Linked DNA regions of Homo sapiens. The protein of the gene in region 3 purifies or fractionates together with the protein of the main gene of each other region. This does not show direct contact. Each region holds a gene or a part of one and is shown on either strand. Other genes may lie near its edges.

Region 1 (3,500 bases), on a different chromosome or scaffold from region 3:
GGAATCTACTGTTAATAAAGAGCAGCTTAGTTAACAGACAGGGGAACGTGAAGCTGCCGGTGCAATGGAAACAGTCACGCACAATCCGCTATTGACAGCCACATCTATCCCTGGAATCAATCCGCTATTGACAGCCACAGCCATCCCTGGAAATCCCTGGAATATTGTTTGAGCGCTTCAAGATCTTGAACCTGACATAAAAAACTACACTCATTTTCAGAGCCACATGGTTCCCTAGTCTCCTACAGGAAATTCACGATCTGAAATGACTTGGTGCTCCAAAAGTTCACTTACAGGTTGATTATTTGGATTTTACATGGAAAAGCCTTCTGTATAAATGTTTGCCAAGTTGAATTCTATCTAAGAAAGTGAGGACTGCTCTGAACTGTTTCAAGATAAACATGGTTTACTTAGCTCAAGAAATAAGGAAATGAATTCAGATTTATAAGATAGGAGGATCTCATTAAGGTTGGTAGAGGAACAGTCCGTCTTCATTTAAGGCATTAGGAAGAGATCATTCACTGATAATAGTATCCTGAAATCAGATTCCTATATCTCTAGGTAATGCTTCTCAAACTTTCTTCCCACAGTCCCCTACAGACTGATGCTAATCTGTAATGGTGCCCTTGTTCAATCTTGGCGCAAAGAAGGGAAACCATCCACCTCTTTCTTCTGACAACATAAAAAAAGAACAAAACTATTCCCCATCTTCAGCCCAGAGAGGGTAAGAACCAAAACAAACAAAAGGTGTTGGATTAGCTCAAGGTTCTGGGCATAAAAATGGACGAATAAGCAAAATACGTGTGGCTTTTTTTTTTTTTTAATCAAAACGTTGATTAAAAAAATCTAAATAGCACAGAAACTCTCTCAGCAAGAAAAGGTAAGTGTAGCCAAGAAATGTTTGAAGCAGATGAATAACAAAGGGGAACTTGTCCACCGGATATTAAAATATTATTCAACCTCCAATAATTTCAATGGGTGGTACTGGCACAAGAACAGACAGAAAGTTCAACGGAACAAAACATGAAGTCCAGAAACATACCCAAGAATTCTGAGCATGACGAAGATGGCATTTCAAACTGGTAGGGAAATGAGAACTTAGTCAACGGTACATGGTGCTGCGACCACATACTATTTGGGGAAAAAATAAAGTTGAGATGATTTCTACCCTTTCTAGAATTAGGAAGGAAACGTTACCTTTAAAAATCTCTCCAGGGCAGTAACTGTGAACCTGGGGTAGAGAAAACTAAAATCAGAAAGGGAAAGACATAGACTGAACTACATGAACATTTCCCTTCCATATATCACAGAACATAACTAAAAAGAAAATGTTTAAATATGGGAAAAATACGAATTGCAGCTAGTAATGCAAGACACAAGAAACCCAGAGGTTCTGACAAGCTGTCCTTAATTTGCATAATAAATGACTTCAGAGGAATCACAGTACCATTTTAAAGCGAAATTACCTAGAACACACACTTGCAGATGAGTCAAAATAAATTATTTTATGTGTTAACTTACAGAACCCCAGCTACCCACCTCCTTTTCCTGCATAAACCCTCCAGTGGCTTTCTAATTCACTCAGAATGAAACTTTACAAGACTGGACACTAGCGAGCCCCTTCTTGGGGCTCTTCTTTTACTGGCCTTCTTGGCTTTCTTTCTTTTACTGGCCTTCTTGGTGTTCCTTTCCAAGCCGGTCCCTGCCTTGGGACTTCCCGGTGCTTCCTTGGCCCTCATGCTCATCAATGATATTCACACAACTGGCTCTTCATGATCAAATCTCAGCCCAAATGGCACTCTCTCCAAACTCTTCCCTAATCACCTAACACAGAGAGGACACACTTGCCCTGCCCCAACCCTGTTCTATTTTCTCTACAGCATCCATCACTAGCAGAAACCCTCTTTTTAGTGTCGTCCCTCTGACTAAAGAACATGACAGCAAGCCGTGTACTGCAGTGTCCCCCAGGACTCAGGGTCGGGGGCCAGAGGGGCCATGCATGCATGTGCTTTACAAAGAAATGGATCCTAAGTAACGAATCAGGATCACTCCTATTAACTCCACAGCTACTGTGTCACTCAGGGCCTCCAAAGCTCAGCCCTGGCTGGTCTCTCACCTGCTACATTTTGAGTTTTGTCTCGCCTGCTTTGAAAAATCTGTTTCTTGTCTGCTATCAGCTGTCACTGCCCTGCTATATCTTGGTGGCCCCCATCCATCCCTCAAGCAGATGGCAGGTCTAGAAAGTAAAAATGTGTAATGATGGAGATGTTCTATCATCAAAGTGCTGTGCCTTTAGTGTGGACGGGCATATCTCCTTGGATTTTCAAAAGCTTTTTTAGCCCCTTTCTGGATCTCAGAGTTGTTGGAATGAAGAGGTTGCTAGCTACTAGTCCCTTCACCTAAATTCTGACATTTTCAGTATTCTACACCAAAGTATCATCTTACTGAAAGTGCTGGCATCTCCTTCATCTATAAGCCAAACAACAGTTGTTTTTTTGTTTTTTTTAAAAAACAAAACTACAGTTTTCGATAAGATGAAGAATGAATTTACCTTTCAGGAGAAATGTAAAGCTCAGCACATCGATTTCCAAACTAGAGTTCTACCTTGTGCTAGAAGAGTCAAGCTTACTTTTATACTGAACTGTGCATGGAATTTCCAATTTAAGAGCTCAGTGTGGACTTTTGGTCTGGGCTGCAAAGCACAGTAAAACTGGAATCATATGTTATACCCTATAACCTCCATCCCAATTGAGGCCCTCCCCAAAAGTTCCTTAACTTTTAGCCTTAAGGCTAAAATCGTCTTGTGCCAACTCCTGCAGTCAGTCTAAACACAGGGTTGGCAGGCAAGAGGCAAAGGACCCTAACTGGCAGGGCAGGTCCACCTCCAGGCTCCATGCACTCTGACTTCTTAAGATCTGAGAGATAAAAGGAAACTTCTGTGAGAGAGCTGGAGTGACATTAGCTGGACACTATCTCCTGGTAGGCGTTTTCCTTTCTCAGAAAGGCAGAGGTGTCAAAAGAAAGGGAGAACCCCGCCTGGGGGCAAACTGTGTTTCTGCTTTCCCCTAACCACCTGAAAAAAAAATAATAAATAAACAATGAGATTAAGTCTTACATCCAGAAAAAGATGAGGGAAGAGATGTGGAAAGGAGGCCAAAAGTAAGAGCGTTAAGCTCGAGTTTGGAAAACCATCTCCAAGTGTGAAACAGTAGTTCTAGTTTGCATTACATTTTCTTTTACTTATTTTCTTTTTTTTGAGACGGAGTCTTGCTCTGCCCCCCAGGATGGAGCGCAGTGACGCAATCTCGGGTCACAGCAACCTCTGCCTCCTGGGTTTACGCCATTCTCCTGCCTCAGCCTCCCGAGTAGCTGGGACTACAGGCACCTGCCACCAAGCCTGGCTAATTTTTTTTTTTTTTTTTTTTTTTGCATTTTCAGTAGAGATGGGGTTTCACCGTGTTAGCCAGGATGGTCTTGATCTCCTGACCTCATGATCCGCC
Region 2 (3,500 bases), on a different chromosome or scaffold from region 3:
TGTCCTTGGCTACAGAAGTGCCCTGAGCCACTACCATGCTGACTGTAAGCAGAGGAATGTCCTGAGCCAGACTCATGTTGACCAAAGACAGAAGAGTGACCCGAGCGAGACTCATATGGGCCACGGCTGGAAGAACGACCTGAGCCAGACCCATGTTGGCCGTGGCTGGAGGAGTGCCCCAAACCGGACCCATGTCGGCCGCGGCTAGGGGAATGGCCAGATCCAGACCCTTGTCGGCCGTGGCCCGAAGACTGACGGGAGCCAGACCCATGCTGACCATAGTGGGAAGACGAACCTGAGCTAGATCCGTGTCGTTCACCCCTAGATGACTGTCCTGATCTAGAGCCGTGTTGTCCGTAGCCAGAGGAGTGACCTGAGCCAGACCCATGCTGACTGTAACTAGAGGACTGCCCTGAGCTAGACTCGTGGTGACCAAAGCCAGAAGACTCGCCTAAGCCAGACCCATGTTGGCCACTGCTGGAAGACCGACCGGAGCCAGACCCATGTCGGCCGTAGCTGGGAGACTGCCTTGACCCAGACCCACGCTGGCCGTGGCCTGGAGACTGGCCAGATCCAGAGCCCTGTCGGCCATAGCCAGAAGACTGACTTGAGCCAGAGCCATGCTGACCGTGGCTGGAAGACTGACCTGAGCTAGCTCCATGTTGGCCACAGCTCGATGACTGTCCTGATGTAGAACCGTGTTGCCCATGGGTAGAGGAATGACCTGAGCTAGATCCATGTTGACCGTAGCCAGAGGACTGTCCTGAGCGAGACTCTCGGTGACCTAAGCCAGAAGAGTGACCGGAGCCAGACTCATATGGGCCACGGCTTGAAGACCACCCTGAGCCAGACCTATATGGGCCATAGCTGGAAGACTGCCCGGAACCAGACCCATGTCGGCCACGGCTAGGGCTAGGAGACTGGCCAGATCCAGACCCATGTTGGCCGTGGCCCAAAGACTGACGGGAGCCAGACCCATGCTGACCATAGCTGGAAGACGAACCTGAGCTAGATCCATGTTGTTCGCTCCTAGATGACTGTCCTGACCTAGAGCCGTGTTGTTCGTAGCTGGAGGAGTGACCTGAGCCAGATCCATGCTGAGTGTAACCAGAGGACTGCCCTGAGCTAGACTTGTGACCAAAGCCAGAAGACTGGCCTGAGCCAGACCCATGTCGGCCACTGCTGGAAGACCGACCGGAGCCAGACCCATGTCGGCCATAGCTGGGAGACTGCCCTGACCCAGACCCACGCTGGCCGTGGCCTGGAGACTGGCCAGATCCAGAGCCATGTCGGCCGCGGCCCGAAGCGTGATGGGAGGCAGACTCATGCTGACCATAGCTGGAAGATTGACCTGAGCTAGAGTCATGTTGGCCGGAGCTTGATGACTGCCCTGACGTAGATCCATGTCGTCCCTGGCTAGAGAAGTGACCTGAGGCAGAACCATGCTGACTATAGCCCTGTCCTGAGCCAGACTCGTGTTGCCCAAAACCAGAAGCCTGGCCTGAGCCAGACTCATAATGGCCACAGCTGGAAGAACAACTTGTGCCAGACCCGTGTTGGCCGTGGCTGGAGGAGTGCCCTGAACTGGACCCATGTCGGACACGGCTAGGAGAGTGGCCAGATCCAGACCCTTGTCGGCCGTGGCCCGAAGATTGATGGGAGCCCGACCCATGCTGACCATAGCTGGAAGACAAACCTGAGCTAGATCCGTGTTGTTCACTCCTAGATGACTGTCCTGACCTAGAGCCGTGTTTTCTGTAGCCGGAGGAGTGACTTGAGCCAGATCCATGCTGACTGTAACCAGAGGACTGCCCTGAGCCAGACTTGTGACCAAAGCCGGAAGACTGGCCTGAGACAGACCCATGTGGGCCATTGCTTGAAGACCAACCGGAGCCAGACCCATGTTGGCCGTAGCTGGAAGAGTGCCCAAAATCGGACCCATGTCGGCCGCGACTAGGAGACTGGCCAGATCCAGAGCCCTGTTGGCCATAGCGAGAAGACTGACTTGAGCCAGAGCCATGCTGACCGTGGCTGGAAGACTGACCTGAGGTAGCTCCATGTTGGCCACAGCTCGATGACTGTCCTGATGTAGAACCATGTTGCCCATGGGTAGAGGAATGACCCGAGCTAGATCCGTGTTGACCGTAGCCAGAGGACTGTCCTGAGCGAGACTCTTGGTGACCTAAGCCAGAAGAGTGACCGGAGCCAGACTCATATGGGCCACGGCTTGAAGACCTCCCTGAGCCATACCCATGTGGGCCATAGCTGGAAGACTGCCTGGAACCAGACTCATGTCGGCCACGGCTAGGGCTAGGAGACTGGCCAGATCCAGACCCATGTCGGCTGTGTCCCAAAGATTGACGGGAGCCAGACCCATGCTGACCATAGCTGGAAGATGAACCTGCACTAGATCCTTGTCGTTCACCCCTAGATGACTGTCCTGACCTAGAGCCGTGTTGTCCGTGGCCGGAGGAGTGACCTGAGCCAGATCCATGCTGAGTGTAACCAGAGGAATGCTCTGAGCTAGACTCGTGGTGACCAAAGCCAGAAGAGTAGCCTGAACCAGACACATATGGGCCACTGCTGGAAGATCGACCAAAGCCAGTCCCATGTTGGCCGGAGCTGGGAGACTGCCCTGACCCAGACCCACGCTGGCCGTGGCCTGGAGACTGGCCAGATCCAGAGCTGTGTTGGCCGCGGCCTGAAGAGTGACGGGAGGCAGACTCATGCTGACCATAGCTGGAAGACTGACGTGAGCTGGAGCCATGTTGGCCAGAGCTTGATGCCTGCCCTGACGTAGATCCATGTTGTCCCTGGCTAGAGGAGTGACCTGAGCCAGAACCATGCTTACTATAGCCAGAGGACTGTCCTGAGCCAGACTCATGTTGCCCAAAGCCAGAAGTCTGGCCTGAGCCAGACTCATAATGGCCACGGCTGTAAGAGTAACTTGAGCCAGACCCGTGTTGGCCGTGGCTGGAGGAGTGCCCCGAACCGGACCCATGTCGGACGTGGCTAGGAGACTGGCGAGATCCAGACCCTTGTCGGCCGTGGCCCAAAGACTGACGGGAACCAGACCCATGCTGACCATAGCTGGAAGACGAACCTGAGCTAGATCTGTGTCGTTCACCCCTAGATGACTGTCCTGACCTAGAGCCGTGTTGTCCGTAGCCAGAGGAGTGACCTGAGCCAGATCCATGCTGACTGTAACCAGAGGACTGCCCTGAGCTAGACTTGTGTTGACTAAAGCCAGAAGACTGGCCTGAGCCAGACCCATGTGTGTCATTGCTGGAAGACTGTCCGGAGCCAGAGCCGTGTTGGCCATAGTTGGGAGACTGCCCTGACCCAGACCCACATTGGCCGCGGCCTGAAGACTGATGGGAGTCGGAGTTTTGCTCACCATAGCTGGAAGACTGACCTGAGTAGGAGTTATGTTGGCCAGAAAAGTCTCTTTGAAAACTCAGTCTTCTGGATATGGATTCAGTCCCAGGTTTAAGACTTCC
Region 3 (3,500 bases):
CGAAAATGAAAGTCTCGTTGTATGGTCCTTTTAATTTTTGCCATTTGAGGGAACTACTGTAAAATACAAAAATAATTCACCCACTGAACTAACATCAAACAGTTTCATAGTAAATCTAAGTATACTTGAAAGAGTAAAGTGGGCTATATTTAGCTTTTAATAAATGGATTCAGTTCTGAATGTTTCTTTTAAAAAATAACTTGGGGCTTACAACTCACGTCACTACCACAGTTAAGCAGAACATGATCCCTCTCTGAACACAGATGGGGAGAATCACGAGTGGGAGAGTGAGAAATAAAGCAAGTGCTCCACAGTGCTGATTCCTGGTGAATCTAGGTGAAGGGTCTGTGCTATTCATTGTGCTTTTCTTTCCCTTTTTTCCTAAGTTTGAACATTTTTTAAATCAAAGTTTTAGGGAGGGGGAGAAATACTCTAGAACCAAAGCAATGATGTTAAACGTGAGCTCCACACTATCATAAGAGGAATGGTTTCGAGCCTGAGAATGTCTCTTTCTTTCTTAAACAGGGAGATTAGCAGCATTAAAGAGGGGGATCCAAATGGAAACTTTCTTCTTAAAGAGATCCCATGGATTAAAGGGAGAATAGAAAAGAGAATGATTCCACAGCCCCTGATTTGATGCTGTGTGGGGCAGAGTTTCCGGTACCACCTAGAATCAGACTGCATGCCAACAGAGTCCATGACCCAAGTCCCTATTGGAACACTGGCCTACTTAACCCATTTCACAGAAAAACAGAAGCTCAGAGAGCCCCATGGTTGTTGAGTGGGGTGGCCCGGACAGTCTCAAAGATGGTTCAAGCAGGAATTCAAAATATCTCCCTGTCACTCCTGAAGAAGGAAGTTTACTGTGATGAAGACAGAAAACCAATACATCCACTGATAATATTTCTGGATGAAAACAGGTACACAGACATAACTTCAGGGAGTGAGAATTAAAATATAAATGTCTCTCTTTCTCATTTGATGAAATTAACCTTCCCTGAGATTTTAGCTTGGGATTATGTAATCCATAAGTTACACACAAAACTCAGCAGGAAGTGAAAAGCTCCTTCAATTATTAATAACTTGGTGCAATGTTATTCACGATGGTGCAAGCCAGCTGCACTGACTTGGTGTCAAATGTTTCCCGCCGCAGGGATTGCCATTACAGGACAACAAATGCTTAAAAGAAACCAGCCATTCTGAACATGTTGGAAGGTGAATTTCTAACCACTTTCTTAAAAATCATTCATTAAAGTGAACATGTGATACATCCGAAATGCCTGCAATTTTTCAGTTTTAGCTGAATTTATGTGTAACGATATTGCAATTAGCATAAATCAGAGCCACCTGATTTTACTGGGCCTCTAAAAGTTTAAAGCATGTGGCTCAACAAAACCACGTGCTATTCATCTCAGATAAAACCTGGTACTCATTCTCTTGTCAAATAGTTGGAAAATATCAAACATAAAAAGAGAAATCACATTAGTTCAAACCCAGAATGAGCAGGCTTTCAGCTAACAAGTCAAGGTGTAGGTTTACGACATGGCCATCTGCCATTTTTTGTTTGTTTGTTCATTTGTTTAACCAATTAATTAGGGGTTCCACTACAGTATAATGAGCATGTGTCATCTCTGCCTCTTACCTGGTGCACTAGGAGTCTCTCTGGAACTAATGGCTCTAATTCTAAAGGATATCATGTAGGGTAGTTGTCCTCCCCAGGGATTTAGTTGAGGACTCTGATCTTTTGCCAAATGTGAAAAGTAGATGGGATTAATGGGATTGTAGAAGCAGGGGACTGGAGCAAGTTCAAAGCTTCTTTTGAAAATCAACTGCAAGTAGACATGGAAGAGAAGAGATGACCAAAGACTTCCACCTCCAGCCAAGTGGTAGAAAGACATTTGGAAGGTTCTCTTCTGACTATAATATAAAAGATCCTAGATCAAGTACAGTAACTTGTTTTAAAGGCATTGCTGAGTTCACTAGAAAATAAGGGATATTCAGAGACCCATAGAGACATACACACAAATAAAACATTTTAAAGTAACCTGCAGTGTGAGCAATCAGGCAACTAGGCAACGAAGAAAGCCAAAGTTTCTCTATAGCGAACGTCTGCCCTCGCAGTAGAACAAGAACCCAAACTCACTCAGTGGGAGGCAGGAAGGGAGCAGCAGGAAGGTTGATGCTGGCTGCTTCCTGCTTACTGTGTACCCTCTAAGGGCGTTCAAGTGGCTCCAGGTATACTGGTCCCCCAGGCTCCCCACCGAAGTTTTAAAAGCAAATCCTCTCTGAAAGAACATACTTTAAACCCAAGCCACAAGGAATTTCCACAGATAAGATTTCAAGAACATGGGTTCATAATAAAAAAACAAAAATTAAAAACATTAAACACAATGGGAATAAGCCACCATAAGCAAAGAGACAAGAGAACAGAGAAATGATAGAATCTGAACGGCAAAGACTATAAATGTTGAAATAATTCGTTACAGAATGTAAAGTTAGTATGTTTAAATAAAGGAGGGAATTGAAAAATACTAGAAAGGAAGATCAGGCTATATTGGAAAGCACTAAACAGAACTTCTAGAGATAAAACATATAATCCTGGAAATTAAAAACATCAATGCAAAGTGTGGTGGCTCACACCTGTAATCTCAGCTACTCAAGAGGCTGAAGAGGAAGCGCTTGAGCCCAGGGGATCAAGACTAGCCTGGGCAACATAGCAAGACCCTGCCTCAAAAATAAATTAATTAATCTACACTGAAGGTCTCCTAAAAAACTCAATGTAGCTGAAGAGAAAAATTAGTGAATTGTTAGATGGACCTGAAGATACTACATAAAATGCAGCAGAAAGACACAGAGATAGAGAATATGGAAGAAAGGTTGGATGAGACGGAACACAGAAAGAAGAACCAACGGAAACCTAACTGGAGTTCCAGTGAAAAGAAAGAATGGAGAAGATTCAATACTTGAATAGAAAATGGCTAGAATTTTCTAGTTTTGATGACGGTACCAATCTTCAGATTCAGAAAGCCAACACGTCCCATGCGGGATAAAAAAAATAAAGTCCATACGGAGACACATCACAGTCAAACTTTAGAGCAGACACAAAAAAGACAAAAAGATTTTTAAAGTAGTAGAAAGAAAACGTATCGCCTAAAGTACTAATTAAGATAAAACAAGTGAAGCAGAAGAAAGTGGAACAATATTCTCAAGAGAGAAAATAACTGTCGATCTAGAATTTTATATTCAGTAACACTAACTTCTAAGGGTAAGGGCAAAATATAACTTTTCAGGCAAAAATTCAGGACTTTAACTACAAATAAACCCTTACTGTAGGAATTTCATAAGAATATATTTTAGGAAAGAGAAAAATGATCCAAAATGGAAGATCTGAGATGTAAGCAGAAATGATCAGTACAGAAAATGTAGGCTGGGTGCTGTAGCTCATATTTGTAATCTCAGCACTTTGGGAGGCTGAGGGAAGTGAATCTCTTGAGCCCAGG
Region 4 (3,500 bases), on a different chromosome or scaffold from region 3:
GGGCACTGGATTCTCCTGATGGACATCAGACAAAAGAGCCACAACTGTGGAATATAGAATTTATTCTGGATATTGTAGCCTTATGAACAAACTACCTGAAAATCATCTAAAATGAGCTGAAATAGTTAAAAGTACAATACAGGATGTAAGACAATTTCATTTAAAACATCCTCTTAGAAAGTTATAAAAGCCTGACATTAAAAAGATATTTTATGCTGGCCAACATGGCAAAACCCTATCTCTACTAAAAATACAAAAAAAAAAAAAAAAAACAAACCAAAAACCAAAAACCACGTTTTTTTGTAATCCCAGCTACTTGGGAGGCTAAGGTGGGAGGATCACCTGAGCCCAAAAGGCAGAGGTTGCAGTGAGCCAAGATTCCGTCACTGCACTCTAGCCTGGGCGAGAGAGGAAGATTGTCTCCAAAAAAAAAAAAAAAAAAAAAAAGGATGGCTGGTGCAGTGGCTTGCACCTGCAATCCTAGCATTTTGAGAGGCCAAGGCAAACAGATCCCTTGAACCCAGGAGTTCAAGACCAGCCTTGGCAACACAGTAAGACTCCATCTCTGCAAAAAATTTTAAAATTAAATGGGCATGGTGGCATGCACCCGTAATCCCAGCTATATTGGAGGCAGAGGGAGGAGGATCACTTAACCCTGGGAGGTCAAGGCTGCAGTGAGCCAAGCCATGATTGTGCCACTGCACTCCAGCTTGGATGACACAGTGAGACTTTGTCTCAAAAAAAAAAAAAAAAGGTGGTTGGGGGCTGAGCACAGCCTGTAATCCTAGCACTTTGGGAAACCAAGGCAGGTGGATCATTTGAAGTCAGGAGTTCCAGGCCAGCCTGACCAACGTGGTGAAACCCCGTCTCTACTAAAAATACAAAAAAATTAGCCGGGCGTGGTGGTACACACCTATAATCTCAGCTACTAGGGAAGATGAGGCAGGAGAATCACTTGAACCCAGGAGATGGGAGGCTGCAGTGAGCTGAGATTGCGCCACTGCACTCCTACCTGGGTAACAAGAGTGAGGCTCCATCTCAAAAAAAAGAAAAAAAAAAGATATTTTAAGTACGGTTCCTAACTTTAAGAACATATAATTTTTCAAAACTGAGGGACAGAGATAGGAGAGATATTTTCCAATGTATGCTCTTTTTCTTTTGGTGTTTTGGTCTACCAGAAGACAATCTATTTAAAAATTTTTTTTAATTAAAAAAAATTTTTTTTTTGAGACAAGGTCTCACTCTGTCTCCCAGGCTGTAACGAAGTCACAGGATATCAGCTCACTGCAGCTTCAAACTCTTGGACTCAAGTGAGCCTCTGCCTCCGCTGCCCAAGCAGCTAAGACTACAGGCACATGCCACCACACCTGGCTAATTCTTTTATTTTTTTATGAAGAAAGAGTTCCACTATGTTGCCTGGTCTGGTCTTGAATACCTGGGATCGAGTGTTCCTCCCACCTCTGGCCTCCCAAAGTGCTGAGATTACAGGTGTGAGCCACTGCACCTGGCCTATTTAAAAATTAAGTATTTAAAAATTCAGTGGAGGCCGGGCGTGGTGGTTCACGCCTGTAATCCCAGCACTTTGGGAGGCCAAGGTGGGGAGATCACTTGAGGTCAGGAGTTCGAGATCAGCCTGTCCAACATGGTGAAACCCTGTCTCTACTAAAAATACAAAAAAATAGCCAGGTGTGATGGTGCACACCTGTAATCCCAGATACTCAGGAGGCTGAGGCCAGAGAATTGCTTGAGCCCGGGAGGTGGAGGTTGGGAGATCCTGCCACTGCACTCCAGCCTGGGGGACAAGAGCAAAACTCTGTGTCAAAAAAAAAAAATTAAGTGGAAAAAAATCAGAGAACAATACTGATGTAATAAAGGAAGAGCTTGTGAAAATATTAACTCATATTTGTCTATAATTTTTCCAAAATAATTTTTTTTCTGAGCATAAAGATAATATTTACTTATGTAGAGAATTTAAATTATTTGGAGTACCATAAACAAAGTAATGTTGCCCCCAAACTTACCCCACAAAGGCACCAACACTTAAAGTTTTGGTGACAGTTCTCGCTTCTTTTAAATTTTGGGTTTTTATTCATTTGACTTTTTTTTCTTGAAGTATGATTTTCATAAAGATAAGTGCACAAATGTTAGCTGTGCAGCTCAATGGACTTTCACAAACTGAATAAACCTGAGTAAATAGCACCCAGCTCAAGATAGAAAACATTATTGGTCCCCCAGAGACCCTTAGTTTGGCCCTATTCTAGCCACTATCCTCCGAAGGAAATCAATCTTCTACCTTGTAACACTATAGATTAGTATTGTCTGTTTTTTAACTTTACGTAAACAGACTTATAACAAATACACCCTATTGTGCTTTGCCTCTTTCACTTACAGGTATGAGATTCATTCACATTAGTGTACACAGCTGTAGATCTTTCATTCTCAATGCTGTATATAGTACGACACACGAGTAACGTACAAATTATCCATTTTACTCTTAAGAGGCACTTTAGTTTTCAGTTTGTTCCTATTTTGAATAGTGCTAGTAATGTTCTTGTACGTGTCTTTTGGTGAACATATGTACCACTTCTACTCAATATATACCTAGGATTAGAACTACTGGGTAGAGAATACTGCATCATTTTTTAAAGGTGAAATGGGGCCGGGCACAGTGGCTCATGTCTATAATCCCAGCACTTTGGGAGGCTGAGGCAGGTGGATCACCTGAGGTCAGGAGTTCAAGACCATCATCCAACATGGTGAAACCCCGTCTCCACAAAAATACAAAAATTAGCTGGGCATGATGGCGGTTGCCTGTAATCCCACCTACTCGGGAGGCTGAGGCGGAAGAATCACTTGAACCCAGGAGGCAGAGGTTGCAGCGAGCCAAGACTGTGCACTCCAGCCTGGGCAACGAAGCAAGACTCTGTCTCAAAAAAAAAGTGAAATGGGATTCTATTGTATAGATGTACTATAGCTTTTAAAATCACTGTATCATTGATGGGCTTTTAGGTTATTTCCAAATTTTTGCTTTTATCAACAATCTTGTCCAATGATCTCTTCAGGAAAAAATTCCTAAAAGTACAAGTGCTGGATGAAAAGAGTGATGTGGCCGGGCGTGGTGGCTCAAGCCTGTAATCCCAGCACTTTGGGAGGCCAAGGCGGGCGGATCACAAAGTCAGGAGTTTGAGACCAGCCTGGACAATATGGTGAAACCCTGTCTCTACTAAAAATACAAAAATTAGCTGGGCATGGTGGCGGGCGCCTATAGTCCCAGCTACTTGGGAGGCCGAGGCAGCAGAATTGCTTGAACCCGGGAGGTGGAGGTTGCAGTGAGTCGAGATCGCGCCACTGCACTACAGCCTGGGCGACAGAACAAGACTCCATCTCAAAAAAAAAAAAAAACAAAAAAACAGAGAGGAAAGAAAAGACTGATATACGTTTTCTTTTTCACTATATATTGACTTTTCTCCCAGGTCATTCAGAATTTTTAAAATTTTGAT
Region 5 (4,005 bases), on a different chromosome or scaffold from region 3:
ACCTGAGGCAGAGGGGCCAAGGGCAGGCCCATGATGCCCGGTGACCTGGGGCACGGTGTCCAGGAGAGGCTGTTGAGTGCAGTGTTTAACTGCCTGGGCTAGCTGTGTAGCCTTAGGCAATCAACGTAACCTCTTTGTGCCTCAGTTTTCTTATCAGACAAATGGGGATAATGACCCCAGCTTCCCAGAGTTGAGGGATTAAGTGAGTTAATATCTGGAAAGCATTTAGCACGGTGTCTTTCACATGGTAAGCACTTGGAATGTATTAGCTATTTTCTTTCTTTTTTTTTTTTTTTGAGACAGAGTCTCGCTCTGTCACCCAGGCTGGAGTGCAGTGGTGCCATCTCGGCTCACTGCAAGCTCCACCTCCTGAGTTCACACCATTCTCCTGCCTCAGCCTCCTGAGTAGTTGGGACTACAGACACCCACCACCGCGCCAGGCTAATTTTTTTTTTTGTATTTTTAGTAGAGACGGGGTTTCACCGTGTTAGCCAGGATGGTCTCGATCTCCTGACCTCGTGATCTGCCCACCTCGGCCTCCCAAAGTGCTGGGATTACAGGCGTGAGCCACCGCGCCCAGCCTGTATTAGCTATTTTCTTACAGAAAATCCAGCAACAATGCTCAGAACAAAGAACTTCTGCTTCCCGTGTCTCCCACCCCTCAGTCTGACACTTAAAACCCTCTATGGTTCACCGTCTGCTGACCTCACCTCCTGCTTTCTCTCCCCTTGTTCTAGCAAGTTCCAAGCAGTTGGAAGGTCTCAGAACATACTGTGTTCTCTCCTGTGTCCGTGCCTTTGCTCTTGCTCTTCCTTGCTTCCTGGAATGCTTTTCTCCTCCCATATCTCCCTGATGAACTCCTATTCATCCTTTAAAACCCTGCCAAGATTTGTCACTTTCCCTATAAAGCTTCCCCTGTCCTGCAGACAGGGAACCTGGACCACACTTGGAGAAATGTTGTCCTGGGGCCCAAGACATGAAGGTTGGAGGCAGGAAGGAAATGAGGAGCCAGGTAGGACTCAAAGTTGTGAAAAAGCTCTTTGCTTAATCTGCAATACTAAGGGGGCTGGGGAGGGACTGAATGGCTTCTTGGAGCCAGGAAAAGAAGGGCAGAGAGAGAGAGAGAGAAAGAGAGAGAGAGAAAGGGCCCTGTGGCTCATGCCAGGGAGAGGAGCTTGGGGGTATTCTGGCCCCTTGGCTGCTCTGTCCCCTCCCTCCACAGGGGTGTGGCATCAACATCTGTAGTCCAGTCCTGAGCTCTCCAGCTTGCACCCTGGCTCTGTCTGCCAGCCCCCCATGGAAGCTCCTGCCCCTGTGGACTGTCCTGCTTGGAGGGAGGGGAGACGCTGCAGAGATCTGAGCCCCTCGCTTGGTTCAGCATGTGGATTTCTTTTTGCCAAAGACAAATGTGGCATCCGGATGACATGTGTCTCCTGTGCCCTGGAGCAGTGTGAGCTCTTCTGAGACCCTTGCAATAATGATTCAGCCTCTGCTTCCCTGACCAAGCTGTGAGCTCTGGGAGGGAGGGCTGGGTCTGCCTGCTCCCTGCTGTGTCCCTGGCATCCAGTATAGTGGTTGGCATAGACCAGGTGCTTAATAAATGGCTGCTGAATAATTGCATAGCCTCTGGAAGCCCCGAAAGAATTGGAAATCTGAGCCTGCTAAGCTGAAAAGGTTAGTGTTAGGAGGCCTGAAGGTGGAGGGGAAAATATTATTGGCTTGGCAGCCAGATGAACCCTAGTTGGAGGCCTGCCTCTACCACTTGCTCTGTGATCTTTGACAAGTGACTTACCCTTTCTGAGCCTCCATTTACTCATCTATAAAATGGGGAATAATTATAGTACTTATGTCATAGGCTTTTTGGGAAGATTAAATGAGACAATCTATTTGTGGCCTGGCATGGCCAAGCGTTCAGTAGATGGTAGCTTCCACGATAATTATGACAGGTATTATTACTAATATTGGAGTCAGAAGGAGACACCTTGCAGCCAAAGCCAGAAGACAGAGCTGAACCCCGGCATCCAGGCACCCCTGTGGCCCCACTCCATATTTTCCTTGCAAATACCTTGACTCTGTCTGTCCTGCATTATCTGTACACACTGCTCAGTCCTCTTTGGATCAGAGAAACCCAGGGACCCACGAGGATGGTAGCATCCCTGTTTCCCTCCTGTGGAAAAGACTCTCCTCCCCCAGATCCAGGCACCACACACGCCCCTGTCATATGGCACCTCCTCTCCCAGCCTTTGCTTCTGCTAGTTCCCCTTCGTGGAATATCTTTCTCTCCTCCTTTGCCCAATCGCCTTCTACTCGGCTTTGCAACCAACACATCACCTCTTCCAGGATCCCTTCTTTGACTGTCCTCCACTCCCATGTCCCTGGGTCTTCCTTGGGCACCACATTGTCCTGCACTGGGAGTTCTTTGAGGGACAGAGTCTGCGTCTCATGCTTCTTTTGTCCCAGCACCACCGCAGCACAGCTGGGACAGAGCAACTGGTATGTGCAGAGTGGGTTTATGTCACTAGGAAGAGGTCAGGAAAACACTCAGCCAGCCCCATCCCTTCGTCACTGCCCTTTGGTCCTCTGGGCGAGGGAGCTGGGCATCTCTCTACACCTGGCCCTGACCCTCAGCGGATCCTGACTCACCGAGGGCCCTTCCCTGAGGGCGAGCCTCCCCTGTGCTCCTGACCTGACCCCAACAGGTATCTCTAGCTCAGAACCTTCCTGGCAACCTTGGCTTTCAGCCCCTTCCCTACTTTTACCTGGGCACGCTGGAGTCCTCGGCCCGCTCCTCTCCTCTCCCGGGCAGTGGGTCTGGAAGTCCAACCTTATATCCTGCACACCCCAGCACAGGCTTTGTCTTTAGGCAGAGGCCTCAGACCAGGCCGAGGTCTCCAAGGTAAATATTTGTGGCTTCTGCTGAACCACAGCCCCGCCCGGAGGCAGCCTTGGGACTCCAGCTTCCTGAGGTTTGGAGAAAGGAAGGTCCAGGCTGAGAGAAGCACAGTGCATATAGCAGAATAAGCACTCCATAAATGTGAGTGGCCGTTGCCATTAATATTATTATTGCTTATAATAGGATGAGCCTTTGTAGAGGGATTACAACAATTGTTTAATCCAGATAATCAATTTGGGAAAAGGAAGGAGTAGCCTTACCCACCCCTTATTCCTAAATACATCAAAGATACACATCTCCATCAATTAATTCACCCAGGAGAATAGATTTGAATCCTATTTTTGCCACTGCTTTGCTGTGTGCCCTTGGGCAAGGTACTTCACCTCTCTGGGCCCCAATGACCTCATCTATAGCATGGGGATAATAGTAGCTCCTCCTCATAGGTTGTTAAGAGCATGAGTTGAAGTGCATGCCTACACAGTGCTTAGCATGGGCTTTCATTTCATTCATTCATTCATTCCGCAGCAATTAAAATCTGCTCTACCTTGTCTGCATCTTTAGGAATCTCCATGAGCACTTGTGGACCAAAAGAATAAGGAGGGATGACCATGAACCTAAAGGACAAATGTCAGAGCCCAGCAGGACGCTGTCATCCACCACCTGGGCCCAGGTCTTGGCTCACGCAGCCTGCACAGTCACCCAGAGGTGGGCATCAGCAGCGTTAATGTTACAGAGGGCACCTGAGGCTCAGAGAGGCGAGTGACTTGCTCAAGGTCACATGACCAGGGATTCCAGCTTTGGGACCTGAACCCGATCATCAGTCCAGACCGGACCCTCTTAACCGCCACACTGTCCTTCCCCTGAGACTTCAATTTAGCACTGGAGGTGGTGGTGACACCAACATGGCCTTTTGATGTCATCTGGGGAATTATCCTTGCTACCCAGTTTTTGTCTAGAAGAATGGAATTGTGGTTTAGAGCTGGGATGGCCATTGTTGAATCCTGTCTCCATCTGCAGCAGACAAGTCAGGGGCAGTAAGTGTTCTGAGGTCACAAAGTACGTGGCCAGGCCCTGGCTGGTCTCTTCCTCCTGCTTTTTGACAAGAAGAACAA
Region 6 (2,436 bases), on a different chromosome or scaffold from region 3:
AGGATCTTGGAAACACTGTGAGTGTAACTCCATTTGTCTTGCCCGATTTTCCACCAATTCGAGCATTTGTGTAACAATCTGTATTTTTTCATCTCCCAATTCTTGACTATTAATTAGTGCTCTCTGGAGAAGCTGCTGTAGACGTTTCTTCTGGTTTAAATCATCTTCTTTCTTATATTTTTCGTAGACATCATCAATTTCCTTTAACGTTTCTAAAAAAAGGAAAAGAAAAATGAGAACGTTATCATGTGTTAGCAGACACAACATTTCCAAGGTAGTTATTTTTTACAGAATTGAAATTAGAACTCAAACCATGAAACCATACTCCTCTTTGGTACATATACATTAAAAACTATTTCATACAAAGACCACATTATCTAATATGAAAGTATAGTTAGAAATAAAGTAATGAAAAGAAAGAACACAAAACTAATACTCATTAATCTATATTAAAAAGAGGCTGGGCGCGGTGGCTCACGCCTGTAATCCCAGCACTTTGGGAAGCCGAGGCAGGTGGATCACCTGAGGTCAGGAGTTCAAGACCAACCTGGCCAAGATAGTGAAACCCTGTCTCTACTAAAAATGCAAAAATTAGCCGGGCATGGTGGCAGGCGCCCCTCATCATTTCAGCTACTTGGGAGGCTGAGGCAGAGAACTGCTTGAACCCGGAAGGCGGAGGTTGCCGTGAGCCGAGATCGCACCGCTGCACTCCGGTCTGGGCGACAGAGCAAAACTCCATCTCAAAAAAAAAAAAAAAAAGGCCAGGCGCGGTGGCTCACGCTTGTAATCCCAGCACTTTGGGAGGCCGAGGCGGGTGGATCACGAGGTCAGGAGATCGAGACCACGGTGAAACCCCGTCTCTACTAAAAATACAAAAAAAATTAGCCGGGCGCAGTGGCGGGCGCCTGTAGTCCCAGCTACTCAGGAGGCTGAGGCAGGAGAATGGCGAGAACCCTGGAGGCGGAGCTTGCAGTGAGCCGAGATCGCGCCACTGCACTCCAGCCTGGGAGACAGAGCAAGACTCCGTCTCAAAAAAAAAAAAAAAGGATAAGAGATGTTTGGCTAATTAATGATCAAAAGTATTTCTCATGGGCAGGAACACTGAATGCCACTTTAGTCTACTAAGTACTGTAACACCTTCAAAACAACCCTATATATAAAATGTGCAGGCTGGGGTCCAGCTCTAAAACTTGAAAAGGTTACAGGACTAGGCTACAGATTACTGCCCAACTGTGTTTACAGGATTTACAGTCCAATCAATGACTTGTGACAATGACTTGTGACATGACTCCGGAGATATAGCTTCACTTTCACATCATACATTCTTAACAAAGAAGGCATAAGCAACTCTTAGCTTCCCATCATCTTACTTTTAATGGCTCTACTTTAGCCTCACATGGGAAATTCTGAAAATGAAACTATTTCCAGAGTAGGTTCTGGTTCTGGCATCAACTGACCAAACCACTAACAAAATTACAATAAAGTCAGCACTCGATCATTCTGCCTTTGTAGATAAATCAGTAGTTGGTTCTGAGCTTTCTGAACTGCTGATTTAGTTGTATGGCACGTGGAATACACTTACTTAAATCAAGTAAAAATAGCTGAGTCACTAGAAGGTATCCAAAAATCTGAAAATATAATTTCAGATGTCACCAAAAATTTACTTAAGATTAGTTTTGCTCGAATCCGTTTTATTTCTTATTCTTACAAGATGTAATGCTATCTCAAAGAGTTCTGTCCGCATGGTATTTTTCATACCACATGGCATACTAGTTTTATATTCCAATATTATAATTATTAAAAACAGAAATGTTAGGCAAGTAGATATATACATTGGGGCTGTCTGCAAGTAAGGCACACAAAAGCAAATATTCAACAGAACTCATTAATCAGCTTCTCCCTGGAAATCGCAGGTACTCGTACTTGATGTACAACTGTCTAACTTGGAATATATAACAAAGTGCCACCACACAGTTCAGAGTACTTACACCTGCATAGCATATTTTCGAACAAAGTTCATGTCTATTCCATTTGCTTAGCTCGGCATCTAAGCAGATTTCTTAAGAACCTCATTTCCCTACAGGAAAAATAAGGAAACTGGTTCCCTCAGACACATAAAAAATTGAGGATTAAAAAAAAAAGAGGCAAACCTCTTTTCAAATATTTTGTACCTAATAATCAGGTGTTAGAGGCTAAGTACAGTATATATCATACCAGCACATTGATAGATGAGATAAAAAATTTGTAAGATACCGTATTATATAGTGAAAGAAGACAAGAAATTAACATTTACTCAGCCCCTTCTATGTGGTAAAGATTTTCTCAGTTAATCTCCACAGCAACCCCATGAGGAAGCCATCACTTCTGCTTGTGAAAAAAACTGCAACTCAAGAGATAAGAACCCCAGACTTTGAACTGTGCCAGATCTGTATGTCT
Region 7 (4,065 bases), on a different chromosome or scaffold from region 3:
TGGGCTCACTGCAACCTCTGCCTCCTGGGTTCAAGTGATTCTCATGCCTCAGTCTACGGAGTGGCTGGGATTACAAGTGCGCGCCACCACGCCCAGCTAATTTTTGTATTTTAAGTAAAGACGAGGTTTCACCATGTTGGTCAGGCTGGTCTTGAACTCCTGACCTCAGGTGATCTGCCCGCCTTAGCCTCTCAAAGTGCTGGGATTACAGGCATGAGCCACCGTGCCCAGCCCTAACTTCTTTTAATAAAAGTTTCAAACATACAAAAGTTGAAAGATGAATGCAATAATCACTGATATAGTACAATCACCGCCTAAATTCAAAAATTCTTTTTTTTTTTTTTGAGACAGAGTTTCCCTCATTGCCCAGGCCGGAATGCAGTGGTGCGATCTCGGCTTACTGCAACCTCCACCTCCTAGGTTCAAGTGATTCTCCTGCCTCAGCCTCCAGACTAGCTGGGACTACAGGTGCGTGCCACCATGCCTGGCTAATTTTTTGTGTTTTTAGTAGAGACGAGGTTTCACCGTGTTAGCCAGGATGGTCTCAATCTCCTGACCTAGTCATCTACCTGCCTTGGCCTCCCAAAGTGCTGGAATTACGGGCATGAGCCACCACGCCCAGCCAAACATTCGTAATATTTGTCATATTTACCTTTTGGGAGAGAGGGGCCAACAATATAAAAGTAAGTTGCAGGCATGATCATACCTTAGCTTTCGTCATCTCAGAGGGCTGGATTCTAACTGTAACTCTTTAAATTACGCCTTCATAGGCTTTCCTTTTCCAGTGTTTCTTTGAACTATGTGAGTATTTATTATTTTTACAATCACTTCAGCATTTAAGTGCTTTCTTAGATTGCCACTTAAAGTCACATACATGCTGTTTCCTCTAGAGAAACAAGTTTTAAGAGGTATGTGCCACATTATATTTAAAATAGTTTCTCACATTACCAAGCACAGAAATGAGCATAGGAGGCTAAGAAAGGGAAATGCTGCTTACCTATCTGTTGAGGGACAATAAACACTAAATAGGGAAGAAATCCATCCAGTGTTATAAGTAGAAAACATTTTCTTCTGAGTCCATTAGTCTCCTGACTAGTCTCTTAGATTTAGAACTCAGCTCTGCAGATGGGCTTTAGTGGATAAAGAAACTCCACATCACAAAGAAGGGAGTGCATCTGTACTCTAAGAAACAAGGTGTAATTCCAATAATCAGCAGACTCACTCACCTGGGATCTGGCCGTGAGGCGCAGAGCAGCCACTTCTCCCTCTTCTGTGCTCTTCTCTTGGAAATGGGGAGAATCCTGGGAAGACAGAACTAACGACAAGAAAGCAGTAATGATGAGACCTAGGCTTAATGTGCCACTCAGATTTAAAGTCTAAAAACCGCTTCAACATACTATATGTGCTGCCTACAAACACTGAGACTGAAGGTACCCCCAAAACAACCGACCTCCTCCCAGGACCCTCTTCCCGGGATATGCGGGAATATTGCTACTCTGGGCTCGAATTCAGTTGCTATAATCATAACACATTCTGTAAGATGGCATCCTCTGATCTAGAAATTAGAATATGTCAGTAAATTTCCCAGCTTAATCTATACTCGTTGGTTCTCACTCTGAAAGCTTATTTATAATGTAGATTGCTGGACCCCACCTCAAAGTAATAAGCATTAGTTGAGCCTGGGGTACAATCCAGAAATCTAACAACCACCCCAGGGGGAATTCTGGTGTAGGAGGTCACAGCACAACCTTCACGAAACTGGTCAGGTAGAATGGAAGTCAGTCATTAACTACTACGCCTGTTTTCTCCTATGTAAAACAAAACATTTTTGACAACCAAAGAGGTGAATTCTTGCCATAGAAGTTAACATTTCACTCACATTTTGGGGGTAGCTTTGAAGGGTCCACTGTGTGCCCAGCTGCCATGGAAAGGGCGGTGCTCCCATACCAAGCTCTTCAGTCTCACTTAAAAAGCCCATCCATCCCCAAGACAATGGAGACAGCCAGCCAAGAGCCACCTCCCCTGAGCCAACCGTTTTCCCTTCAGGAGCAGGAATTTCGTCCTTCCACGCTACAAGTTCAACACGTCCGCAATTCTCACCTCCTTTCTCAGGCATTTCAGCCAAATCTGTCTCCATGATCACCACCTCCTCCTTGTTCTGGAGATTCTGCTCTTCACCCCAATTCAGATCTCCCTGGCCAGACGAGTTAGAAGCCCCCCGGGCCTCGTGGTCCCACTTCCTGCCTTCCCTCCTGGGCTCTGATGAAAGGCCTGGGTTAGATCGGGTCTCTTTCTCACCGTGGAGTCTGCCTCAGTCCTACGGCGCTGGAGCCTGGAAGCCCGGGGACAGCATCCCTGAGGCTGGGTCCTCAGATGTCTGTCCCTACCGCTTGAAGCTGTCCCTGGGGGAACCGGGCGCCTGGAAGAGGTGACGCTGGGGCATCAGGAGTTTGGACAAATTCTGCCGCGCTCGGGGCACTGGCCCAGGACCCCGCGACCACCCCGCCCGTGGCACAACCGCGTCCCCCGAGGAGAGGATCAGGCCAGAGTGAGAAGGGACAGGGCTCATGGTCTGCCCTCGAGGCCCCTTTAACAAACGCGCACTCTAGCCCCGACTCGGCACAGAACGACCCGGGGAACTACCGCCGAGGCCGAGCCGAGACGAGAGACATCACCACAAGCAACTCACCTCCCATCCCGGGCCTCACAAAGGGGACGAACTTCTTTGGCCAGCTCGGAGTCGCGCATGAGTAAGAAGGAGCGGAGCCAGGCGTGCTGCTCTCATTCCGCCCGGAACTACAATTCCCAGAAGCGCCTTGGCATCGCCAGACTCCGGTTCTCCGCAGGTGGGAGCACCCATGGTGAGGTTGGGAGAATCGGCCGATCGAAGAGCTCCGTCCGTCTCGCGAGAGTATGAGGCAGCATCTCCTGTGTCTAATCCTCAGGGCAAGGGAGGGAGGGAGCAGCGGAGACGCGGACCGGAGTCAGGGTCCGTCCCCGCGCTTTGTCTGCACAAGTTCCTGTGGCACAGTGCTTAGGGCTGCTGAGTTCAACCCAAATTACTCCGGTGTAAGATACGTTAAAATACATAGCTTTTATCCATATTTTGTGCGCCCAGAACTCATCCTTTTGCTTTCAAAACATACGAAGGATGTTTTTAGGAAGAGCAGGTCCCTCTTTGTACACTCAGTCAGATGTTCCTGTATCCACAGACTACTTGTAATCCTAAAATTCATGTATTTAAAACGAGTTGAAAAGATTGAACCTGTTGTAACAAATTTAAGCAATAGGTTCTTTGCAGACATAAGCATTAGTTTAAACGTAGCATAAAAGGTGGTTCTTTCAAGGGAGGGTTATTCAGTCTCTCCAATTCTGTTAGAGGACTAACCCATCCACCTCCAGCTTCGTGTCTAGACTGCCCTCCTTTTCTCAGTGAATGACATTACTGCCCACTCACTCATTTGCACAAACCAGAGCCTGAATATTCTTAACTCTTTGATCTCACCATCTATTTATCACCAAGTCCTATTCATTATATCTTAAATAACTCAATTGTTTCCATCTTTCTCTATTCCCAGTAGCATTACCTTAGTTGGGGCCACCACCATTTCACTAGGATTGCCGTTGCAGCCTGGTAACTGGATTCCCTAACTAAGGTTTTCTCTACCACCAATCTGTTCTCGACACTTTCTGGCTAGTGCTCTTTCTAAAACAAGAATATGCTATTACTTTAGTGCTTCAAACCGTTCAGTGGCTTTTAGAAACTTCAAGGAAAGATGATTTCCAGCTCCCAGAAGGGATTTGTAACTCCCGTTATCTCAGCCACCTGGTAGTTACACCTTTGTGCAATCCCCTCTTGTGTATGGACTGGGACTTGCTTCTAACCAATACAGTGCAATAAAGGTGACATAAAAGTCTAACGTGTGTCTTGCTAGGAGACTCCTCTCTTGCTGGCTTTGATGAAGTGGTGGTGATGTTGGGGAGGCCCATATGACAAGGAACTGAGGATGGCCTCCAGCCAATAGCCTGCAAGAACCGAAGGCCCTTGGTCCCACAACCTGCAAG

What was found.
Region 1: the proteins of FOXN3 (region 3) and CHSY1 purify together in Homo sapiens (affinity purification with mass spectrometry; one large-scale study listed by BioGRID and IntAct). This does not show direct contact.
Region 2: the proteins of FOXN3 (region 3) and HRNR purify together in Homo sapiens (affinity purification with mass spectrometry; one large-scale study listed by BioGRID and IntAct). This does not show direct contact.
Region 4: the proteins of FOXN3 (region 3) and SAP130 purify together in Homo sapiens (co-immunoprecipitation; one large-scale study listed by IntAct). This does not show direct contact.
Region 5: the proteins of FOXN3 (region 3) and BPIFB1 purify together in Homo sapiens (affinity purification with mass spectrometry; one large-scale study listed by BioGRID and IntAct). This does not show direct contact.
Region 6: the proteins of FOXN3 (region 3) and ING2 purify together in Homo sapiens (co-immunoprecipitation; one large-scale study listed by IntAct). This does not show direct contact.
Region 7: the proteins of FOXN3 (region 3) and FOXO3B purify together in Homo sapiens (affinity purification with mass spectrometry, with the first as the bait; one large-scale study listed by BioGRID). This does not show direct contact.

Annotation. Positions count from the first base shown.
Region 1 is NC_000015.10:101,245,549-101,249,048, forward strand, and holds part of CHSY1 (chondroitin sulfate synthase 1), read right to left. Parts: intron 1-3,500. UniProt on the Homo sapiens protein: Has both beta-1,3-glucuronic acid and beta-1,4-N-acetylgalactosamine transferase activity. Transfers glucuronic acid (GlcUA) from UDP-GlcUA and N-acetylgalactosamine (GalNAc) from UDP-GalNAc to the non-reducing end of the elongating chondroitin polymer.
Region 2 is NC_000001.11:152,217,694-152,221,193, forward strand, and holds part of HRNR (hornerin), read right to left. Parts: coding exon 1-3,500. UniProt on the Homo sapiens protein: Component of the epidermal cornified cell envelopes.
Region 3 is NC_000014.9:89,165,734-89,169,233, forward strand, and holds part of FOXN3 (forkhead box protein N3), read right to left. Parts: intron 1-3,500.
Region 4 is NC_000002.12:128,018,060-128,021,559, forward strand, and holds part of SAP130 (histone deacetylase complex subunit SAP130), read right to left. Parts: intron 1-3,500. UniProt on the Homo sapiens protein: Acts as a transcriptional repressor. May function in the assembly and/or enzymatic activity of the mSin3A corepressor complex or in mediating interactions between the complex and other regulatory complexes.
Region 5 is NC_000020.11:33,282,009-33,286,013, reverse strand, and holds the start of BPIFB1 (BPI fold-containing family B member 1 precursor), read right to left. Parts: upstream 2,801-4,005; 5' UTR 2,760-2,800; intron 1-2,759. UniProt on the Homo sapiens protein: May play a role in innate immunity in mouth, nose and lungs. Binds bacterial lipopolysaccharide (LPS) and modulates the cellular responses to LPS.
Region 6 is NC_000004.12:183,508,058-183,510,493, reverse strand, and holds part of ING2 (inhibitor of growth protein 2), read right to left. Parts: intron 213-2,436; coding exon 1-212. UniProt on the Homo sapiens protein: Seems to be involved in p53/TP53 activation and p53/TP53-dependent apoptotic pathways, probably by enhancing acetylation of p53/TP53. Component of a mSin3A-like corepressor complex, which is probably involved in deacetylation of nucleosomal histones.
Region 7 is NC_000017.11:18,679,515-18,683,579, forward strand, and holds the start of FOXO3B (forkhead box protein O3B), read right to left. Parts: upstream 2,801-4,065; 5' UTR 2,690-2,800; intron 2,420-2,689; exon of another isoform or gene 2,333-2,419; 5' UTR 2,138-2,332; coding exon 2,101-2,137; intron 1,316-2,100; coding exon 1,227-1,315; intron 1-1,226. UniProt on the Homo sapiens protein: Transcription factor.